Linked DNA regions of Homo sapiens. The protein of the gene in region 2 interacts with the protein of the main gene of each other region in a pairwise test. Each region holds a gene or a part of one and is shown on either strand. Other genes may lie near its edges.

Region 1 (3,600 bases), on a different chromosome or scaffold from region 2:
CAGAAAAAAACATATAATAAAATCCAACATCCCTTCATGATAAAAACCCTCAAAAAACTAAACATCGAAGGAACACACCTCAAAATAATAAGAGCCATCCAGGACAAACTCACAGCCAACATCATACTGAATGGGCAAACGTTGGAAGCATTCCCCCTAAGAAATGGAAAAAGACAGGGATGCCTACTCCCACTACTCCTATTCAACATAGTAGTGGAAGTCCTAGCCAGAGCAATCAGGCAAGAAAAAGGAATAAAAGGCATCCAAATAGAAAGGGGAAGTCAAATTATCTCTGTTCACTGATGATATGATTCTATACCTAGAAAACCCTACAGATTCCTCCAAAATACTCCTAGACCTGATAAATGACTGGCAGTTTCAGGATGCAAAATCAGTGTATAAAAATCAGTAGCATTACTATATACCAACAATTGTCAAGCTGTGAGCCAAATAAAGAACAGAATCCCAATTACAATAGCCACACACAAAAATAAAATACCTAGGAATACATCTAACCAAGGAAGTGAAAGTGAAAGATCTCTACAAGGAGAACTAAAAAACACAAATAAATGAAAAACATTCCATGTTCATGGATTAGAAGAATCAATATCATTAAAATGTCCATACTGCTCAAAGCAATCTACAGATTCCACCCAATTCCTACCAAATTATCAATGTCATTTTTCATAAAATGGAATCATTCTACCAAAAAGACACCTGCATGTGTATGTTTGTCACAGCACTATTCACAATGGCAAAGTGATGGAATCAACTTAGGTGCCCATCAATGGTGGACTAGATAAAGAAAAAATGGTACATACACATCACGAAATACTATGCAGCTATAAAAAAGAATGAAATCATGTCCTTTGCTGCAACATAAATGCAGCTGGAGGCCTAAGTGAATGATCCTAAGTGAATTAACACAGAAACAGAAAATCAAATGCTGTATGTTCTCACTTTTAAGTGGGAGGTAAACAATGGGTACACGCAAACATTAAAGATGGAAACCATAGACAGTGGGGACTCCAAAGTGGGGGAGGGAGGGCGGAGGACAAGGGTGGGAAAACTGCCTATTGGGTACTATGTTCACAATTTTGGTAATGGGTTCAATAGAAGCCCAAACCTCAGTATTATGCAATATACCCATGTAACAAACCTGCACATGTGCTCCCGAATCTAAAATAAATATTTTCAAAAAGCAATTGACCTATATTATTAACATTTTAATCTACCTGTATATATGTTTTAATCTGCATGTGTTCATGCTTTGAAATATGGTACAGGTACTATGACAATCCCTGTTCTGTAGGGGAGGAAGAAGAGACACATCTCTTCCCCCACATCACAAAGTCAGGAAGGAACAGACCTCACGGAGTCCAGTCTGTCACTGGCTCATGCTTTGTGCCCTTAAAAGGCAAACTGGATAAGTGCCATTCTAGAGAATCAGACAAAATTCAAGTGGAAGAGAGGGGAGGGGAAGAAGACGTCAGCTGGGGCCTGTTTGGAGCATCCCAGCTGAGGCTGCGCAAGGAGGGAGGCACGCAGTTGTGGAATTTGTTCCCCTTTTTGCATACTGACCAGCCCTGGCAACGGAGCTCAAGGCATCTTTGTGCCACTGCTCAACAGTGAGTGATGTCATGGGCACGGCCAGGTCTTTATCAGTTCTGCCGGATAAATAGCCAACTGCACTAGGTCTGGAGAGACAGCAAGGTGCTGTGCGGCAGAGCATTTGGGGTCTCAAAGAAGCAGGTGAGCCTGGGCCCGAGGGGCTGGGTGGAGGAGCACCTTGGTGCTTCTCTGCTGGGGAAGGGACAGGGGACAGGGCATGCTCAGGAAGACAGGCAGGCTGACCCCGCCTGGAAGGCACCCAGAGACAAGAGGGGTGGGCGTAGTGACCTCGTGCCCTTTTAGGGGAGATGCTGCTGGCCAGAGGCCGTTAGGGCCCCCACTACCAACTCCATGTTACTCTCTCTCACCAGTGGCCACCACCATGGATACAGGCCCCGACCAGTCCTACTTCTCCGGCAATCACTGGTTCGTCTTCTCGGTGTACCTTCTCACTTTCCTGGTGGGGCTCCCCCTCAACCTGCTGGCCCTGGTGGTCTTCGTGGGCAAGCTGCGGTGCCGCCCGGTGGCCGTGGACGTGCTCCTGCTCAACCTGACCGCCTCGGACCTGCTCCTGCTGCTGTTCCTGCCTTTCCGCATGGTGGAGGCAGCCAATGGCATGCACTGGCCCCTGCCCTTCATCCTCTGCCCACTCTCTGGATTCATCTTCTTCACCACCATCTATCTCACCGCCCTCTTCCTGGCAGCTGTGAGCATTGAACGCTTCCTGAGTGTGGCCCACCCACTGTGGTACAAGACCCGGCCGAGGCTGGGGCAGGCAGGTCTGGTGAGTGTGGCCTGCTGGCTGTTGGCCTCTGCTCACTGCAGCGTGGTCTACGTCATAGAATTCTCAGGGGACATCTCCCACAGCCAGGGCACCAATGGGACCTGCTACCTGGAGTTCTGGAAGGACCAGCTAGCCATCCTCCTGCCCGTGCGGCTGGAGATGGCTGTGGTCCTCTTTGTGGTCCCGCTGATCATCACCAGCTACTGCTACAGCCGCCTGGTGTGGATCCTCGGCAGAGGGGGCAGCCACCGCCGGCAGAGGAGGGTGGCGGGGCTGGTGGCGGCCACGCTGCTCAACTTCCTTGTCTGCTTTGGGCCCTACAACGTGTCCCATGTCGTGGGCTATATCTGCGGTGAAAGCCCGGTGTGGAGGATCTACGTGACGCTTCTCAGCACCCTGAACTCCTGTGTCGACCCCTTTGTCTACTACTTCTCCTCCTCCGGGTTCCAAGCCGACTTTCATGAGCTGCTGAGGAGGTTGTGTGGGCTCTGGGGCCAGTGGCAGCAGGAGAGCAGCATGGAGCTGAAGGAGCAGAAGGGAGGGGAGGAGCAGAGAGCGGACCGACCAGCTGAAAGAAAGACCAGTGAACACTCACAGGGCTGTGGAACTGGTGGCCAGGTGGCCTGTGCTGAAAACTAGGTCCTCCGGGGGAGGAGGGTGTAGCTGGCGTGTCATCCTCAGGGCGCTTCCTCGCTCACGCCAGGAGGGACTTGGAGTGGCGAGCTGGGGCCCGATGGGGCTTGGGGGCAGAGTAGACATCTAGCCTCCCTAAGGGTATGCGCGCTAAAGCCCAGCTCTCGATCTCACCTCCATCCCCATCCACCCACACACTATGGATTGGGCTCTGGGAAGGGGTCAGGGTGAGAGGCTGCTCTGGAGAACAATGAGGTCCTCATAGCAGCAGGCAGCTCCTGTGTTTTCTTGAGGGTGGCAGAGGAGCTAAGAGCAGTGCCCAGGTCTGAGGGGGCTGCCCAGTGAGTGGCAGGGGCAGGAGAGGGGAGAACCCCATCCTCAGAGCTGCTCCCAGCCAGCGAGTCAGGAGCGGGGGAGACAGGGCTCCAGGGATGAGGCCGCATTCTGCTCCCACAGTGCCTTTTCCAGAAAGTTCCCATTGCTCAATAAATGTGGATCATCAGAGACATTTATGAACAATGACAGAAGAAAAATTACCCAAATAAATGTGGAAGCAAGCAAAAGAGAACAGT
Region 2 (3,945 bases):
CATGCGGGTCACTGTCATTCCAATCACATCCCCTCATCCTTGGCCCTCTCTGCCCACATCAGATATTCTGAACTGGGGCAGCCCCATTCTCTGGGCCCCAGCCTGGTCCGTGGGGCCCCAGCCCCCTTCCCAGGTCTTGCTGTCACCTCACCATCACTGACAACCGTGACACTGTGGCATCCCAGCCATCACCCATGGACTTCTCACAACAGCCCTCAGAAGCAGAAACACAGAACAGTACTGCGAGGCCAACTCAGGCACAGGCCAATGCCGCGCCTTGCCCAGAGGGAGTCAGAGTGGGATTCAGGCCTCCTGCCTGCCAGCACAGGGGCTGAGGCCCCTCTGGTTCCCCAGGAGATCTCGGTCTGGCTCCAGAGAGTCTGAATGGTGAGTGGTATTGCACAGAAGCCACAGGCTGGGGCCCCAGCAGGCTGCACGCCCCAGCAGGGCGTGATGGAGTCAGGCCAGGATGGGATCACCTCCCCCACACACCTGCTGACAAAGGCCCATTCAAGACAGGACAGACAGCAGTCCCAGCAGCAGACACAGAAACCCAGAGCAGCTGCCAGGGCCAGGAACCCAGAAGCCAGGCCCACGCCACCCTGCCCACAGCCAGGCCACAGCACCAGGCAGCCCCCTTTGCTCTCTCTGCCTACCTCTTTAGAAGGACAGCTCTGGCCTGCATGTTTCAGCCTACAGGGCACTTTGCACAATTTCATATTGTCTCCCTTTTAGGGGTAGAAGTGGCATGAAGATGAACCCTGACCCACGGGCCTGGATACCCAGAAATGTGCCCTGCCTTTAGAGGAGGGGGCTGTTGACCTGACTCTGTCTCTGTTTCAGGAAACACATTATCCCCTCCCTCCCCTCAATGCATCCTCATACCCACAGAGCCAAGGCCTACACCCCTTCCCATGTAGGGCTGTCACCAGTGTATGCCCCCATCACACCATAGCTCCCTGGGAGCACAGGCACACTCTGGCCATCTCTGGATCCCTGGCACTGAGCACAGCAGCTGCTCAATAAATGTTGATGTGTGAATGAAAGGACGCTTCAGCATCATTATCCCTTTACATCAAATCCATTCTAAGCTCAGAACAACCAAAGGATCTGTAGGGAATTTTTCAGGCATTTAAAACTTTCTCGGTATCCTCCTTCCTCCATTGCCTCATTTCTAATCTCTGTGTCTCTGTCAAATCCCAACTACCAAAATGCTGTGAGGAATCAGCCTCTCTCCTTTGACTTCAGCTTTTAAGCATCTCTCAGACCTCAGATGGGGTCAAATTCTTAGTTTCTAGACTCTACCAAAGCAAGTGGGAGACTGAGGTGACGCACGGTAATAAAGGGATGTGCATCTTGGGAACGCGTGGTGTGCACCGGCGTATGGGAGACAGCCGGGAAGGGCGACTAGGTGTCTACACCTCCTGGTGATGAGGACTCTTCCCCATGCGTGTCACAGCACACACGCTGTTCACTGGGCTTTCTCCACGTGTCTGACACTGTGCCAGGCACCGTGGGGAGAACAGACCTGCCATTGAGAGGCGGTGCAGTGGAGCGGGCGGGGTGGGAGGCGGGGCGTGTCCCTCTGCAGCTAAAATGCAGGTGTGTGCTCTCAAGGAAGAACTGACAGGACATTCACGGTATATGAGTATGTTTATTGGGAATTTTAATGCCTGTTTATTGGGAATATGGAATAATTACTTGAAAGAATAAACACTTGGGAGGAGCCACGAAGGATGATATAACAATAATAATGCCATTCTAATAATCCTAATAATGTGTCATTACTATCATTATTACAGCAGCTGATATCTCCTGAGTGTTTACTCCATGCTAGGCAGCATGCTGAGCCCTTTACACAGCTCGCCTCATACTGTCCTCACACTCATTTGACAGGTAAGGAAACTGAGGTTTAGCAAAGTGAAGAAATCCAGGAAGCATCAGAATGCAGTTTAGAATCCAAGTTTGTGTGTCTACAAAGACTGCCACCCTCTACTCGGCACATTCCAGCAACGGCTTGAGCTCAGGCAGAGGGTGAGACAGTACCAGGCTTCGGATGACCATCTGGAGAAGGTGCCTGCAGAGGTGGCTGCAGCCAGGTCACGCTGAGCCTGGAGTGCCTACACCATGTACCTGTGCTTATTAATAGGCACTGGTGAGCCTGGGGAGGTTTTTGAGCAGAGGAGTGGCAAACCTGGACCTGAGCTGTAACATCAGTGGGTAAAATGGAATGGGCTGAGAGGGTGGACGTTCACAGGCCATCACCATGGTCTGAGAGACTGCAGCTCTTCGGGAGAGGTGACAGGGCGTGTGAGAATGTGTGAGCCACTGCCTCCCTGTCGGGTGTGGGAGATTATATATGTGTGAGGAAGGGAACGTGTGTGAGAGTGTAAGTGCACCCGTGATTGCATGGAGGGGCTCTTCCTATGGAGGAAGAAAGTCGCAGGGCCTCCTGGTAGGATGTGGACATGAGGTGGACAGTAGGGGAGAGGAAGGAACAGGACAAGCCCATTGATCTACCTGAGCAGGAGGGCTCCAGCAAAGGAGAAACCTCAGAAGCCCACAGGGCCTGCCTGACATATGAGGGGAACATTTATTAAAAGGATGAACGAGGGAGTTTGAAACCTTAGCCTCTGGTCTCTCAGTGTGGGCCTGGCTTTGTCCTCCAGCTGCGTGGGGGTCACTGTTATTCTAACTACACCCCTTCATCCTTGGCCCTCTCTGCCCACATCAGATATTCTGAGCTGGGGCAGCCCCATTCCCATGGCCCCAGCCTGGTCCGTGGGGGCCCAGCCCCTTTCCCAGGCTGTGTGCTCCCTCCCACATCTTTGTAACAAACATGTTCCTGCGCAGCCTACAAGCTGGCTTCATCCCTTCCCAGGTCGGGACCTCTCCCTCCCCGGATTCTGGAGCAGAGATGATGCTGCCAAATTGGTTCCATGCTTTTGTTTCGGCCGGAGATGTCCTGCCTCTCATCAGGGACGGTGTCAGAGCACTGTGTTCCCGACCGGCCCCTCTCGTTGCAACTCTCCAGCTGGCCAGGGGTTCTCCCTGCAGAAGATTTCATGGACCTCCAAAATGACAGCCCAGTCCTCTCCAGTTGTCTCTTCCAGAGAACAACTCTTTAAAGAACCCCCCCCAACCGCCGCCCGCCTCCAGTGTGCAGCCTGGTAGAAAAGGCCAGGTAGACCACAGCATCCAGGAGGAGGTGGCTCCCTCAGCCCTAAAGAAAAAAACTTGGTTTCAGCTTCTAGGGCACCTTCTGCCACACTGGGTGAAAAGGAAACTTTCTCCAGGGTAACCAGAGCCCAGCCCCTTCCTGCTCAGCTCAGCTCAGCTGCAGCCCTGTATTATGAAATAATGAGTACTATTTGGTACCTGGAGAGAAAAGGGATCTCTTTCAAGATTGTATAATCCACACAAATTTAGAGGAAGACATGCCTTGGAAATCATGAGTCTAAACCCCACTATTGACAGATGCGGAAACAAAGGTCTAAAATCCGAAAGGCTTTCAGTTGCTGAAGAGCAGTCCAAGCCATTTCTGGATTTCACCAGAAGCCCAGTTTGCATCCAAAGGGATATTTGTGCAATGAACGCATTTGCCTTTCGGTAGCACGGAAGCTCAGGGGGAGAGCTGGGGCTAGAACCCGGCCTTTCCACAGCAGGCTCCCTGCCTCCTTGGGGCTGTGCCTTTCTTGACTGGTTTGCTTCCCTTAGGGTGCTCAGAAGGTGATTTGTTCGAAGGTGAATATTGGGGGGCTGCCTGGCACAGTCTGCCATCCAGATGGCGGCCGACTAAGTCCAACAAGGTTGGGAGGAAGAGAGGAGGTGCTCTTATTTAGGGGAGATTTCGGTGGGTGGACTCCCCCGAGGCTGTCGGGAAATTTCCAGGGTCTAGGAAACTGCCCTTTCTCCCCCATCTCCTTGCCACAGCTTCCAGCCTCG

What was found. The genes of interacting proteins can lie anywhere in the genome.
Region 1: the proteins of FXYD6 (region 2) and GPR42 interact in binary tests that used the Homo sapiens proteins (3 or more experiments, as listed by UniProt).

The regions. Positions count from the first base shown.
Region 1 is NC_000019.10:35,369,367-35,372,966, forward strand, and holds GPR42 (G-protein coupled receptor 42), read left to right. Parts: upstream 1-1,701; 5' UTR 1,702-1,752; intron 1,753-1,982; 5' UTR 1,983-1,993; coding exon 1,994-3,034; 3' UTR 3,035-3,596; downstream 3,597-3,600. UniProt on the Homo sapiens protein: G protein-coupled receptor that is activated by short chain fatty acids (SCFAs), such as propionate. Hence may play a role in the regulation of whole-body energy homeostasis and/or in intestinal immunity.
Region 2 is NC_000011.10:117,869,899-117,873,843, forward strand, and holds part of FXYD6 (FXYD domain-containing ion transport regulator 6 precursor), read right to left. Parts: intron 1-3,945. UniProt on the Homo sapiens protein: Associates with and regulates the activity of the sodium/potassium-transporting ATPase (NKA) which catalyzes the hydrolysis of ATP coupled with the exchange of Na(+) and K(+) ions across the plasma membrane.